Regions from separate parts of the Homo sapiens genome. Here region 1 is linked to region 2. Evidence: fine-mapped expression QTL. Tissue or cell type: T cells. Region 2 holds a variant in brackets; the other region holds the start of a gene. All regions are shown on one strand. Distances are from middle to middle.

Region 1 (8,148 bases), 80 kb after region 2:
TTCAGGTCTGATTCCAAAACCCATCCTCTTGCCTCTATACCTTGAATTCCATTCCATCTCAACTGCTCAGACTTCTTTTTCGGCAGATGGTTCTATATAAAAGTGTTTGGTTACTGAAAAGATGGTTAGATGTTGAAATACCATCTCAACTATAATACACTCTCAGATAGTAAGCCAAAACAAGCAGGTGACTATACAATTGCACAAAGATGATGAGAATAAATGTAAAATCACCTTGAAATTTTCTTTAATAGTACTAGATCAAGGTGTGAAAATGTTTTAAAGTAAAAAGAAAAAATAGCAAACTAACACTCTGTATAAGAACATTAGTTGACTCTTTACTTCCCCAGATCCCAGTAGACACAGCACGTTGCCCTCACGTGCTGCTAACAGCTGCTAGAAGATGGGCATACTTTGAGTAACCCACATTGAGACAGCGTATCATTTGTTTCTGTTTGTGATTTTTCCAAAAGGGAATTAATGGAAAGGGGTATTTTATGTTTAATAGTATTTTTAAAAAGGAAAATAACTTCAGTTTAAAAAAGCTATTTCAGTCATGCTAGCCCCCATCTCACACTGACCAGCATTTGTCAAAGGGCACTGATATTTTAGGCAGGACAATTATTTGCTGTGTGAGACTGTTCTAAGCATTGCAAAACATTTAGCATCCCTGGCTCCCACCCACTAAATGCCCCCTCCCCTATTTGTGATAACCAAAACTGTCCCCACAATGAGAGCCACTGATTGCTACAGACTTCATTCTATTTCAAGACAGCTAGAGACTTTCTGTTTATTTATGTTTTCTACCACAGCTGCTTATTTAACCTTTCCTGGCAGTGCTTGTTTAGTTTTCTACTTCGCCCCAAAAGTTTTCCTTAAAAATAACACATTTGCTTGACATTTATTTGAATGAGATTCAAAAAGCTAATTTTGTAACTACATCATAATACAATAGTATATAATTACTGGTGACAAAAAATAAAAGCTTTAAGAAATAGCAGGGAACTGGGAAATCATCTATTCCAAGGGGTATGAGACCCCCATGCGAAACAAAACAAAAAAGTTGTATATATATGCATTTTTTTCTGGGATGAAAGTTCCATAATTTATATAAAGTACTCAAAAAAGTCCATGATCCAAACAAAGTAAAGAATCAGTAATCTAACAATTCTCTCACTCTATTAGCAAGGCCAATGACATGCAAAGTAGTCAACTGGATTAACAAGATTAAGACAGTACCATCAGTTCTTATTACCACAAACGTGTATAGTGAATGCCAGAAAATGACCAGACTCATCAAAGGGATAGAGGCGTCCACAAAACCATTTCACCCCCTACCATGCAACAATGAAATTCCTTTAAAAGCATGTTTATAATATCAGTTGCACACTAGAGGAGTCAGAGGAGTGGGTTATTTTCAAGGGAAAGTAAGCTCCCTTAGTTTACTTTGAAGTTTGTTTTTCTGATTTTGTACTGATACCATTTTCTTAAAACAAAGTGGATCTATATCTTTAAATATTAGTCTTACATTAATGATAAACTTGATGCTCCAAAATTTTTTTTAAAAATCTATATTTGAAAAATTTAGATTACTTGACAAATAATTTGCTGACCAGGGAAAAAGTCTCTGGTATAAAGATACTGTTTAAAGGACAATATGTCAATAGATTCTCGAAAACAATCTTGGTAAATAGGCAGGTGTTGTTAGTTTCCATTTTACAAAATAAAATAGGTTAAGTAACTTTCCAAGATCACAGAACTGTTACCAGGTAGCACCAGGACTAGGCTCACCCACTCTGACCCCATGTCCGGAGTTCTTCCTGCTTCACCACACTGCTTCCATTCACAAACATGGTACAAAACAATTTAAGTGCCACACAAGAAACCGTTTTTAAAATCATGTTGGTAAACTACTATTAATACCAAAATAATGTTTTCAACAATTCACAAAGAAAAACTTTCCACCAGACTTGAAAAATTCTACGCTGAGCCCTGGCCTAAAATTTCTGGAAAGTACAATACTAAACAAAAAGAAAAAAAGTTGAAATAATTTGCATAGATCAATGATGAATCATCAATACTGGAAAAACATTATTCCAGGTGTATGGCTGCCTATTAATGGATTGATATTATTACTTTCAGGTTAAAAAAGAGTTATAAGTGATTATGAGCTTCGTGAATAAAAATCAAGGTTCATGTTGGCCACTGAAACAACTTAGAGGCAACAAGCATTTGAAAACAAACACACATACAAAATCTTCTAGTAACCTTAAGAACCTGTTGCATTGTAACAACTGCAACACCCCCTAAAACCAAATGACAAGACCATTCCTCTTCCAATGATTAGCCGTAAAAGAAGTATTTTTACTCCCTCAGATAACCCTGTTTCTTCAGGTGCTTAGGTCACGTAAGCTACTAAATAATAAAGTTAAATTACTACCTCACATATTTTTCATCATATGCTCTCTTAATTAGAATAGCATTCTTGAAATAGAATAAGCACTAACATTAGAAAAAAACAGACTTAAATCAATGCAACAGTTTAATGCTCCCTAAATAAAAACACATCTACATGTATCATGGGCTAGAGACGTTAAAAATTTCTAGGAAGAAAAGCAATATTTGCCTTATAAACACTGCAACTCTTTCCTCTCAACATTAAAACCCAAACATAGAAACCAGTAAGTTAGCTGCATTTACAGCCCCTTACAGGTTTTAAATGTCACATCTCAGTGCCTAAAAAAGTTACTCCATCGTTTCGAGATAAGTTTCTGAGAACAAAGAAAACTCTTTAAACTACTGAACTGCATTTTATTCTTTCCTTTTCCGTGTGACCATCTGCAAAAGCAACAGTTGTCAGTTAAACAGAATCAACCTCTTTCCCGAGTGGACATGATTCACAGCTTGGTCACTGTACAGCAGATGTGAACTGAGAACTACGACATAACACAATGACAAAACACAGTACTGAGCACAAAGTACAGGGAAAGAATGAAAGACAGAAAACAGGAAGAGCACACGTCTGATTTTTGTTTTCTTTGGGGCCCCCATTAGTAGCATTCCCTTCATCCATCTTCATTCAGTGGTTCACTATCAGGGCCAAACCCAAAAGTTACAAAACACCATCTAGCTACTGTCTGGCTGCTTTTATTTTTTCTGCACCAGGACGGGAGCACGCATTCCCCTGCAGTCCTCAGCTCCACCGCAATACTGATACCAAACAGTTTCAGTGGCCCAGCTGCCAAGCCTAACCATTCCTTTTTAAAGCATTTCTTCATCAATCCTACAAAACAGCAAGTTCTTCATGGTATATTTTCCTAGAGCATCTAGCTAATATCATACTTTAACAACTTTTTCCAACGTTAACTGGACATGGGTCATTATCACTTAAGTGTTAGCGCCATTGCCCGCGCCCACTCCCATAATCCACACTGCTTTCCTTCTCCATATTGCCAATCCCCACTAAGCAACCCTAAAATCTAGTAATTATCATCAAATCCACTTCTAGGCCCTGGCAAGAATTATTTGGCTTTACCGAAACACCTATTCCATAGGTAACCAATTCCAGTCAAAAATGCCAGAGTATTACTCCTCAACCCAATGCCCTATCTCCTTAGTGGATTATAAACTTACTACGACAACCTGTCTTCTTTGGATCCAATCCCCGCCCAAGTCTGAGTCTTCTCTCCCAGGCTACAAGCCCCCAAGTCCTGGCAGCTCTATGCTTGACAGCTCGCTGACCTCCACCTCATCAGACCATTGGGTCGCCCTTCTCGCCGTCCTCCAGCCTTCTTCCCGCTCAGACACTCATCCACTGTCCGGGGAGCCTCGACCCCTCCTATACCCCCTCCCCGATCCCGCAGTCCCCTTCTGGACCTTGCGGACCCCTCTCAGGTAAGCGGAGCCCCTTGCCCTGCAGGCCCATCAGTGGTCCTGGCTCCCCGCACCTGCCACCAGGGTTCCCAGGCTGCAAAAACACAAGTAGTTCTTCTTCCCAAGGGCCACCCTCCTCCTCAGGCCGCTTTCCTCAGCACCACGTCACCCGCGCTTCGCCGGGAGACCCCCAACTCACCCCCGCCTCCGCCATCTTCTGGGACCAGCCCCCGTACCCCCTACCGCCTCTTCCTCCTCCACTCCCACAACTCCGCCCGAGCTCCACTGCGCCTGTGCGGCCAACGAGGCCGCGCGCAGGCGATCGGGGCAGAAGAGCTTCCGGTTCCTGCTGTCAATAAGACGTGGACCTGCGAGCCGGGGCAAAAGGGCTTCCGGTCTGCGGGAAACTGGAGGCTAGCGGTGGGCGTGGACCGTCGAGGTGACTGGCGGTTGTCGGATCTGCTGTTGTTTGCTGACCAGGCAGCCGTAGGTAATGACGGATGCCCAGACCCTGTGGGCGGAGTAAAGGAATCATGCACTGATACACGCACACTCACCGAGGGGCGCGTCCGTCTGCGTGCCCCTCATCTCGTAGCCGAAAGGAGCGCGTTCCGGGGCAGGCCTCCGGGTACTTCCCGCAGAGGACCGGGCTTTATACTCTTTGCTCCTTTTCCTCCCCTAGTAAGTCATAACTTATTTTGGGAGAAGGGCATAGTTATTTGTCTCTCGTCTCCATGCTACAGCACTTTATGTGCTTTTCATTCAAAATCGTTCCTCGAGGACGACCAAGTAATGTGATTTGGGGGACAGTTTTCATAGGAAGGGCTTTATAAGTTTACACCAACATAAAGAAAACTTAAAAACCTTATAACCGCTTATTTTTCAGAAGTATTATTTTTCATTTAATCTAAAACCATACTTTTAGAACATGAAACCAAGCCAAACAGATCTTTGCAGATTGTGCAAGCGAACTTTTTTTTTTGAATGAAAGTGGTGCCATCAATGCAAAAGCAAGCCCATATAAGTGCCGAAAGGTACTCGTCATAAGGAGGAGTTGCTTCCCTATTCTGAATTTTTATTTATTTTTATTTATTTATTTATTTGAGACGGAGTCTCTCTCTGTCACCCAGGCTGGAGTGCACTGGCATGATCTCGGCTCACTGCAACCTCTGCCTCCCGGGTTCAAGTGATTCTTCTGCCTCAGCCTCCCCAGTAGCTGGGACTACAGGTACATGCCACCATGTCTGCCTACTTTTTGTATTTTTAGTAGAGATGGAGTTTCATCATATTGGCCAGGCTGGTCTCAAACTCCTGACCTCGTGATTCGCCCGCCTCATCCTCCCAAAGTGCTGGGATTACAGGCGTGAGCTGCCCCCTGAATTTGTTTTTTTTAAGCAACTCTTTTTAAAAAGAGAGAAAAAATAATCTCTCTTGAGTGTATTAGTTATTGAGCTATTCCATTTGGAGGTGGCTTAACCCAAAACGTGTATGGATGTGGTAAGATTACAATGGACTTGAATGTTCTAGATGAAATCTGGGCCGAGAGTAATTGCATAATAGTTTTCCAAAGGACTGTCAGATGGTAAACTCCTTTCATTTACTTTGAACTGATAAACGATAAGATGGATTTTTGTTTTTTGACCTTTTTATCTACATTTACTTCTGAAAATTGAAAAAGAATCTGAATTCCAACAAAATGTTTCTAGGCAAGTATTTGCATGATGCTTCTCTAACATTTCCTATATCTTAGTGTTTTCTCTAATGTTTTCTGTAGCTTTCAAATTTCACTCCTGTAAGTTTTTACACTACCAGTAAGAAAGATCTGGGCCAATTATACAGAATGGACGATGATTTTTAAAAGAATAGAGAAAGCATTCAGAAAAGAGACAATAATTTGAAAATGTTCTGACATCATGTATTTCCTTAAAGCAATACAAGTCCTGTATGTCCAGTTCATGTCTACTCCAACCGAGCTTTTTTCAGACACTTAGAAATTGCCTTCAAGAAAATCCTTATGGAACATTGTAACCTAGAGGGGCATTTATTTTCGTTTAAATATGTATTAATTGCAAGTAGTGACAGAACCTAAAAAGCAAAAACCATATAGCACCAGTTCCAAGGTTCCTATATCTAATGCAGTTACTCCTACTGCAGTACAAGGAGGAATATAAAATCCCTAGGAGAAATACAAAAGGCCATTGTCTTCTTTGACCAGATTTGAGGAAAGTTTTCATGGAAGATGTGGTCTTTCAGTGGGCGTTGAGGGTAAATATGCAGATATGGTTAGCCTGTGCATTCTGGTGGAAGCTCAGAGTTGGAAAAACATGAAACAGATTGCAGAGTCTGGCATGTACAAAGAGGTATGGTGAGACATGTGAGTTCTAAACATCAGGCTCATGAATTTGGACTAAATTTTTGTTATGGAAACATGGAAATCCTAAATTAATTGATGCCAGAATATAAATTGGTTAAGAACATCAAGAAATCATAACAACTGAGTTATTTTGAAGTTGGTGTAATGTGGTCAATGGAACGCTGGTGAATGATCCTTGAAACCTGGATTGTATTTTAGCACTAAGACAGTATGCGTGTAATCACTTGCAATAAATTCATTTTTTTAGGCTTTCTTCTTTTCATCTGTAAAATGAGAGATTGGTTTAGATGATTTCTGAGGTCTTTTTTATAGGTAGAAGTATCAACAATTTGATAATTCTTGACCTCAAGAAAGGTTTTTTCCATTAGCTTTATATGTTGTTTGGTCTCCCAACCAAGAAGATCAAAGATAAGTTAGAAAACAAAAAGCCCTTTACTTAGCTAATACAAACACCCACAAAAGTTTATTGACTTTGTTGGAGTGAGATATTGTAGGAGTCACATTAATTATTGCCTACAGGTTGATGACTAAGCCATTCAGTAAGCCTCTAAGAACCTTGGACTTGGAAACATTACCCAAATTAAAAACATCCAAGATAATTTTTTTACTATTGCAATTTTCCTATTCAGTAGCTAGAACCCCACACACTACAGACCATTCTACTTTTTTGGTTTTGGTTTTTGTTACGGTGTTTTGATGTGAAATATGTTTGAGGGACATAGAAAGTCAAGGAATTTTGCTTTTTTGAGAGATCAGAATGGATTATTTACTAAGCCAGCTATCACCTGAGCACCTGGCAGGTACCAGACACTTGGCACTGGACTTTAGGAGGAAATCAATACAGACAAGCCACATTCCTTTGTGAAGCTAGAGTCCTGTGGGGGAAACACAGTAAATGGTGGAATTCATATGTAATTACAAACTGAGACAAGTGCCATGAAGATGGAACATCTCCATATTGTGATGGAGAATAAAGGGGAATACCTGGAGACCATGCGTGAGCTGAAGATTGAGAGGGATCTGCTAAGAGCAGGATGAAGAACAGGTGTGAGGGCACAAAAGCTGAAAAACTTGGTGCATTCTGGGAATTGAAAGAAAGGCAGAGCTGGGGGTAGCAATTGAAAAGAAAATTGCAAATTGAAGTTGTATTTTAACATCATGATTGATGGTAATCACTTTCTGTGTGCCAGGCACTGTGCTAAGTTAAATCTCATTTCACATGCTCAAAACCCATTTGAAATAGATACCAAATAGCAGATGAGAAATTAAGGCTAAAAGCAGTGATTCTTAACTTTGGCTGCATATTAGGATCACCCATAGATTTATTAAAAGTTCTAGTGCCCGAGCCCCACCTGAGCGTTGAGAATCACTGACTTAGTGTTAATCAGTCCAAGGTCACTTCATAGCTAAGTGGCAGAGAAGGCAGAAATTGAACCTAGATCTATTGGATTCTAAACCCTATGCTCTTAGTCACTCACTAGTGCCCTGTCAACATTCACAAGCACGTAGTAAGCAGCAGTTACATGTGGGAACTCTGTTAAACACTGAGACACAACAATGAATAAGACAGATCTCTTGCCATCAATAAATTCACAGCCTGGAAATGCAGAAGTTAGGTCAGCCCACCTCTACAGAAGCAAGTCAACTGAGAACTCTCAATGAGATCAGATATATTTTTCCTATTTTAAGCTAGATTGATGTAGGCAACTGATGACAGGGAATCTACGTGGGCAGCTAGTGCGATTGTCTGCTGAGAGGTGGTGCAAACTTAACAAAGGCAATGGCAGAGGATACAAAGAATCATCAGGACTTGATAACTGCTAATGTTAGGAGTGAAGAAAAGAAGGTGGAAGTTGATTTCAAAGTTTTGAGCCTGAGAGACTGAGTGAAAGTAACATCAT
Region 2 (8,203 bases):
GTAGAAGGTGCTGGGCTGGAAATGGGGCACAGAAAGAGAGAAGTCCGAAGGAGCCAGAGGGAGAGGTCGTCTGGCGGTGCAAGGGAGCACACTTGACATATCCATAATTGTTCATTCATCCTGTTATTCTTGTCACTCCACAAATATTCAGGGAGCATATACAAATGGGGAACAAGTCAGACACAAGGTCTGCCCTCATGGAGCTGACAGTTTAACAGGGATACAGATGCTTAAAGAAATGATGTGAATTCAGCTCAGTGCTCTGAGACACGAGGGAGAGTTGGGACATGTCATGGAGCTGACAGTTTAACAGGGATACAGATGCTTAAAGAAATGATGTGAATTCAGCTCAGTGCTCTGAGACACGAGGGAGAGTTGGGACATGGGAGTGGCTCCTCATTCAGACAGGTGGGTGTAGAGAGACTTGTTAGAGGCCAGTGACATCTCAGCTTTCAGAAGCAAGTAGAGTCATCCAGGTTGGTGGGGTGGGGAAGAGGAGATGGGATTTGAGCTTTGTAGGAAGGCTTGCATCTCAGGCCTGCGCTCCCCCAGAGAGTGAGGGAAAGAAGTGACCAGAAGACAGCCTCATAAGCCATGATCATGAGTCTGACCCACATGGTAATAATCACCATAAGGTTTCAAGTGGGAGAGTGACACACATGGTCAGATTTGCATTTCAGTAGCAGATTTGGGTGGAGCAGGGCAAGATAGCCAGGGAGACAAGTAAGGAGAGAGTTGCAGGAAATAAAGAAAGGTAGAGAGCATTGGACACTACAGAAAGCAGAATATTACTCAAAGTGCTCATGAGAGATCGGAGTTAAAGGTAGGGTGAGGAGGCAGTCAATGGTGGCCCCCAGGTGTCTGGCTGAGGCAGCTAGGTAAATGGTGGGACCATTGACTAATATGAGGTTTTGGAGAAAGATCTTGAGTTTAGCTTTGGATATATCAAGATCGGGGTTCCTGAGAGATATCCAAGTGGAGTTGTCTAAGAACAGATGAGTACGTGGACTCCAAACCAGGAAATTTTGGATTGGAGACAGAAGTTTGGCATTATGTCAGCCCCCAGATAATGAATGTTTGCTGGGCTGCTGATGACGTTCTACAGAGAGCAGGGGCAACAAGGAAGAGAGGACAGCCAGCAAAGCCCCTCTAACAGGGCAGAAGAGGATGTGTCATTACAAGAGCCTGGAAATTAGCTAGAGAGATGGGAGGGAACCCCACAGAGAGAGCAGTGTTACAGAAGCCAAGGAAAAAGAGGATATCAACAGGGTGGGGTAAATTGATTTTGCTATGATGATATCTGACTTGAGAAGTACTTATTGGATAGTCCAAAGTGGAAGTCTCAGTGACCTTGGCAAGTTTCAGTGGAGTGGTAGGAGTGGAATCCAGATTGTCAAGATGAAGGAGGAGAATGTAGGAGGTAGGAAGGAGGAGACAGCAAGTGCAGGCAAAGCTTAGGAGGCACTTACTGTAAACATTAAGATGAAAGATAGGAAAGTACCTGGAAAGAAATACCTATAGGCTGAGTTTTGGGAATGATGCTTTTTGTTTGTTGTGTAATATGGGAGAGATTTGATCATGTCTTAATACATCTAAGAAAAAGCCAATACAAGAAACGAAAAGTTTTAAAGATGTAGAAGAGAGGGAGGAAATAATAATAATAGTAGAGGCAAATCTCTGAGGAGATGGATGGAGATTGGATCCAGGAGGTATTTCACTGGGACAAGAATGAAAGAAGATGCTGTATATGTTAGAAACTCTGTCGGGTTCAGGTAACAGTACACCCTCTGGGATTGTAACTTGGAAAGTAGCTTGGACATTTGAAAGTCAAACAGTAGCTTTTTGCTACCCTTAATTAAACTGTTCAATGTTGGCAGGGCTCAGAATCAACAGCTCTGTAATTTGTTTCACCTTTGCCTCATGGTTGCAGGATGGCTGCAGCAGCTCTAAGCATCACATCCTTACATACCCCATTCATAACCAGGAACCATGTGTCCGTAAAGGGCATAATTCTCTTCATGCACTTTTCTCTTAGAAGAAAGAAAAACATTTTTCAGAAGCACTTCACAAGACTTCTTGACACATCTCATTATGTAAAATTGGGACTTAACAGTCACGCACAGACCAAGGCTGGGCCCAGTTCCCACCCAGCACACGAACAGAATCAGTGCTTCAGTGAGAAAGAAGAAAGGGGCAACTCTGGGTTAGAAATAGCCATGTCTGCCTCAAAGGTACAGATGAAGTAGGTCAGTGGGCTTGGGAGCAGAAAAAATGAATGAATTCTCTGGAAATGTCAATTTTCCCTCTAAGTTTGTCATCTGCTAAGAGTGAGAGGGAAGGGGTTGTGGGTGTGAGTTCTGATGGGAGTGAAGAGATCTAAAATAACCACAGCAGAGAAGCAGGGGGTGAACTCACTGGAAAAAAAAAAACATCAAAAATTCCAAGAAGGTCCTCCATGGGGAAAATGATTGGGGAAGAAATTACAGACCAAAGGAAAAAAGAAAGGAAGGGAAGATCCACTAAAGGACAGCTCTGCCCCAAGTGGCCATGTACACCAGGGTTTCCCTGCCTCGCACTGTTGGCATTCTGGGCTGATTAATTACTTGTTGCAGGGCTGTCCTGGGCACTGTAGCATGTTGGCAGCATCCCTTGCCTCTACCCACTAGATGCCAGTAGCAAACCCCACTTCCAATCCTGACTACCAAAAATGTCTCCAGGCATTGCCCAGTACCCCATGGTGGGAGGAGGCAAAATCATCCCAGTTGAAAACCACCTATGTACACTATCTTATTTAGTCCTTCAGAGCAGAGATGGTGTTTCTGTTTTTGAGGATGAGGTTAAAAGCCCAAGGACACATAGCTGAGAAGAAATGGAACCGGAATTGAAGCCGGCTCTGCCAGAGACTGCATTCTTCCCTCTGACCCTGAGCTCCACAGCCTGCAGTGCACCACCGGCACCAAACAGGAAGTCACACCCATGGGCCGGCCTCTGCCTTGCCACTGGGGCTCTACACCCCATAGAGTAACTTTGAGGAGTAATCTGTTTTTTCC[C/T]GGAGAGAATTAGAGAACTCATAAAAATTAAATCTTTACAAGAGCTCTATCTCCTCCTTTCAAGGAAGTCAATCACTTGGGTTAAAAAAGAAAAAGAAAAAGAAAAAAAAATGTGGCAACATTTTCCCAAGGACTTAGGGCAGAAAACCACCATCCAGAAAGGAAAATCTTTGAAGTTGGAATGTGCTCTAGGCTGCCTCTTTAAATGAAAAATGTTATATGCCTGGGAAACATTATATATGCCAAAGCAATACGAGGGCCTCACGGTAATAATGATAGCACCAACTCCATGCTTTCATCCCTGAGACTCTGTGAAGGGCCTTAAAAATGAAATTTTATACAAGTGCACACACACACACACACAATATTTGGAAAATTCACACATATATCACTTTGCCCACCTCTCCAATGAAGGTGGAATGTGGTGGCAGATGTTTCACAGCTGCCCGGCAACCACCCTCCAACAGTTTAGGACAGGAAGCTAAGGACACCCGATCCAAAAGGAATTGCAGGGAGAGGTCAGGGAGGTAAAAGTTAATCCTGAGAATTGGGATTCTGCCAAAGCTTGGGATACCCTCCACGCCATTGCCTCATCCTTTATTCTAAGAGACTGAATGAATCAAGTGACAGGCATCTATCTGCATGTGAGAGGCCATGCCCTCCCCATGAAGAGAGTTGGAACTAGGAAAGATCCTTACATTTGAGGAATACATACTATACATACAGCCTGCAGCCCAGCCTGAGAAAGCCAAGCCTATAGATTTGGCATCTAGGCCAGTTACATATCTTTACTCTGCTGAATAGCCATAGACAGAGTCCCTATTGCATAGATGGCTGCCCTTGCCTCTACCCTTTCATAAAAGATAAATCATTTCATAAAGAATGCCTCACTGCCTGGGTGCAGTGGCTCACAACTGTAATCCCAGAACTTTGTGGGGCCCAGGCAGATGGATCACCTGAGGTCAGGGGTTCAAGACCAGCCAACATGGTAAAACCCCATCTCTACTAAAAATACAAAAATTAGCTGGGCATGGTGGCATGCGCCTGTAATCCCAGCTTCTTGGGAGGCTGGGGCACAAGAATCACTTGAACCAGGAAGGTGGAGGTTACAGTTAGCCAGTGATCTGAAATCGGGCCCCTGCCCTCCAGCCTGGGCAACAGCAACACAGTGAGACTTCATCTAAAAAAAAATAAAAATAAAAATAAATAAAAAATAAAAAGAAGGCCTCACTGATGTGTGTGGATGGTAGAGGAGGAAGAGGGGACAAGGGGTGGTATCTTGTTTAACTAGGTCAGGCAGTGCATTTATAACCACAGAGTGAGGGGAAAGAAATGAATAACTGCAGAGCCCCAGCTCATGCCAGGGCCTGGGCTAGGAGCTTTACCTGTTGTCGTGTCATTAATCTTTCTGGGTTTCACTATCTGAACTTTGCAAATAAAGAAACTGAGTCCTGGAGAGGTTACGTAAGTTGGGGTCATACTCCCCAAGAGCCAGGATTCAAGCTCAGGTCAGCCAACCCCAAAGTGAACATGCTTGTGTTACCACCATATCTGGACATCGAGTATGCTAGCGCCCCAGAAATCTCCTCCGTGCTCTCTCCAAGTCATTACGCACCCACCCCTTACCTCCAGGTAACCACTGTTCTTCCTTCTATTGCTAAAGTTTAAATTTTGCATGTTTTTGAACAACATATAAATGGAGTCACATAGTATGTATTCTTTGGCATCTGATTTCTTCAGCTCAATAATTTATGAGATCCATTCATGTTTTTGTGCCTAATAGTAACTTGCTCATTCCCATTGCTATATAGGATTCTACTGGGTGAGTGTATTACAATTTATGTATCCATTCTATTATTTATGAACATTTGAGGAATATTCCATTTAGGAATATTATGAATACTACTGCTACAAACATTATTTTGTTTTGCTGTTTTTTTGAGACGGAGTCTCACTCAGTCACCAAGGCTGGCATGCAATGGTGCAATCACGGCTCACCACAACCTCCTGGGCTCAGGAGATTTTCCCTCCTCTGCCTCCCAAAGTGCTGGGATTACAGGTGTGAGCCATCATGCCCAGCTGAACATTCTTAACATCTAATGGGTGGCCACACACTTGAATATGTATACCTAGAGATAAAATTGCTGAATCATTAAGAAACATAATTGCTCATTTTTACTAGGTAATGCCAGTCTTCCAAAACGTTGTATTAACATTCCCACCAACAATGTGTAAAAGTTTCATCTGCTCCACAACTTCCAAAAATTGGTATTTTGAGTTTCTTTATAATTTTAGCTATTCTAATGGCTGTGTTGCTATGTCACTGTTGTTATAATTTTCTTCATAACTAATAAATATGAGGATCTTTTAATATATTTATTGGCCACTTGAACCATTCCCTCTTTTGTAAAGTTGTTGTCTGTTTTTGTGTATTGATCTGTAGAAGATCTTTGTATATTGTGTGAAAGTCCTTCGTTGGATATATGTATTGCAAATATCTTTTCTCATCCTGTGGCTTATCTGTCCATTCTTTGGTGTCTTTTAGGGCTTTTTTGTTTTTGTTTTTCACTACATTTTATTGTGGTAAGAATAGAACATGAGATGTACCCCCTTAACAAATGGCAAGTATACAGTGCCTTATTGTTAACTATAGATGCAATGTTATACAGCAGCTCTCCAGAGCTTATTTATCTTGCTTAACTGAAACTTTATGCCCAATGATCAGTAACTCTCCATTTCCTCCTCCCCCAGAGTCTGGGAATCATCATTCTACTCCAGAGTCTGGGAATCATCATTCTACTCTGATCCTATGAATTTGACTATTTTAAATATCTCCTATAAGTAGAATCATGTAACATTTGTCTTTCTGTTACTAGCTTATTTCACTAAGCATAATGTCCTCAAGGTTAATCCATGTTGTTACATATTGCACAATATCCTTCTTTTTGAAAGCTGAATAGTATCATATCCAATGTATATAACACATATCCTTCATTCATCTATCCATGAACATTTAAGTTGTTTCCACATCTTAGCTATTGTGAAAAGTGCTATAGTGAACATTGGGGCATCAATATCACTTTGAGATCCTTGTTTTAACTGTTTTGATAAATACTCAGAATTGGGATTGCTAAATTAAATGGCAGTTCTATTTTTTTAAGAGCCTTCATGCAGTTTTCCATAGTGGCTGCACTATTTTGCATTCCTACCAACAGGGTGAAAGTGTTCCAACTTTTTCACATCCTTGCCAACACTTGTGGTCTTTTGGTTTTTTGATAATAACCATCCTGAGAGGTGTGAGGTGATATCTCATTGTAGTTTTGACTTGCATTTCTCTGATGATTAGTTACTTTAAGCACTTTTTCATGTATGGGTTGGTTGCTTGTAAGTCTTCTTTGGAGAAATATCTATTCAAGTCCTTCAGCTATTTTTTAATCAGGTTATTTGGTTTTTTACTATTGAGGTATAGGAGCCCCTTTATCAAATGTTTGGTTTACAAATATTTACTGTATTAGTCCATCATGCTGCCGATAAAGACATACCCAAGATTGGGCAATTTAACAAATAAAAAAGTTTATTGGACTTACAGTTCCACATGGCTGGGGAGGCCTCACAATCATAGTGGAAAGCAAGGAGGAGCAAGTCACATCTTACATGGATGGCAGCAGGCAAAGACAGAGAGAGCCTGTACAGAGAAACTCCCATTTTTAAAATCATCAGATCTCATGAGACCCATTCACTATCACAGGAAGAGCACCGGAAAGAGCTGCCCCCATGATTCAGTCATCTCCTACAGGGTCCCACCACAAAATGTGGGAATTATGGGAGCTACAAGACAAGATTTGGGTGGGGACACGAAGCCAAATCATATCATTCTTCCCCTGTTCCCTCCCAAATCTCATTTCTTCACATTTCAATACCAATCATTTCTTCCCAACAGTCCCCCAAAGACTCAACTCATTTCAGCATTAACTCAAAAGTCCACAGTCCAAAGTCTCATCTGAGACAAGGAAAGTCCCTTCTGCCTATAAGCCTCTAAAATCAAAAGCAGGTTACTTACTTCCTAGTTACAATGGGGGTACAGTCATTGGGTAAATACAGCCATTCCAAATGGGAGAAATTGGCCAAAACAAAGTGGCTACAGGCCCCATGCAAGTCCAAAATCCAGCAGGGCAGTCAAATCTTAAAGCTCCTAAATGATCTCCTTTGACTCCATGTCTCACATTCAAGTCACGCTGATGCAAGAGGTGGGTTCCCATGGTCTGGGGCAGCTCCGTCCCTGTGGCTTTGCTGGTAAAACCTCCCTCCCAGCTGCCTTCATGGGCCGGCATTGAGTGTCTGTGGCATTTCCAGGCACACAGTGCAAGCTGTCAGTGGATCTACCACTCTGGGATCTGGAGGATGGTGGCCTTCTTCTCACAGCTCCACTAGGTGGTGGTCCAGTAGGGACTCTGTGTGGGGGCTCCCACCCCACATTTCCCTTTTGCACCATACTAGCAGAGGTTCTCCATGAGTATCCTGCCCCTACAGCAAACTTCTGCCTGGACATCCAGATGTTTCCATACATCTGAAATCTAGGCAGAGGTTCCCAAACCTCAATTCTTGACTTCTGTGCACTCACAGGGTCAACACTATGTGGAAGCTGCCAAGACTTGAGGTTTGCACACTCTGAAGTCACAGCCCAAGCTCTACATTGACCCCTTTCAGCCGCAGCTGCAGCGGCTGGGACACAGGGCACCAAGTCCCTAAGCTGCACACAGCATGGAGATTCTGGGCCCGGCCCACAAAACCACTTTTTCCTCCTAGGTCTCAGGGCCTGTCATGGGAGGGACTGCCACAGATGTGTTTGACATGCCCTGGGGACATTTTCCCCATTGTCTTGGTGATTAACATTTGCCTCCTCATTACTTATGCAAATTTCTGCAGCCAGCTTGAATTTCTCCCCCAGAAAATGGGATTTTCTTTTCTACTGCATTGTCAGGCTGCAAATTTTCCAAACTTTTATGCTTTGTTTCCTTTTTGAAACTAGAATGCCTTTAACAGCATCCAAGTCACCTCTTGAATGCTTTGCTGCTTAGAAATTTCTTCCACCAGATACCTTAAGTCATCTCACTCAAGTTCAAAGTTCCACAAATCTCTAGGGCAGGAGCAAA

The links. PIP is the estimated chance that this variant, and not a neighbour inherited with it, causes the effect.
Region 1: INSIG2 starts here. The variant in region 2 is fine-mapped to the expression of INSIG2 in T cells (TOPMed, PIP 0.97).

What each region holds. Positions count from the first base shown.
Region 1 is chr2:118,084,466-118,092,613 of GRCh38, reverse strand. INSIG2 (insulin induced gene 2) reads right to left here and starts at 4,143. Exons shown (of 6, transcript NM_016133.4): 1 at 4,073-4,143. It overlaps LOC107985940 (a long non-coding RNA gene), which reads left to right and starts at 4,183. Exons shown (of 3, transcript XR_001739662.3): 1 at 4,183-4,363. RefSeq lists enhancers at 4,189-4,378, 4,389-4,438.
Region 2 is chr2:118,164,227-118,172,429 of GRCh38, reverse strand. No RefSeq gene overlaps it. Among named protein-coding and RNA genes, the nearest start is that of THORLNC, 18 kb to the left of the region's middle. RefSeq lists an enhancer at 2,942-2,991. The variant C/T (reference allele first, on the strand shown) is at 3,051.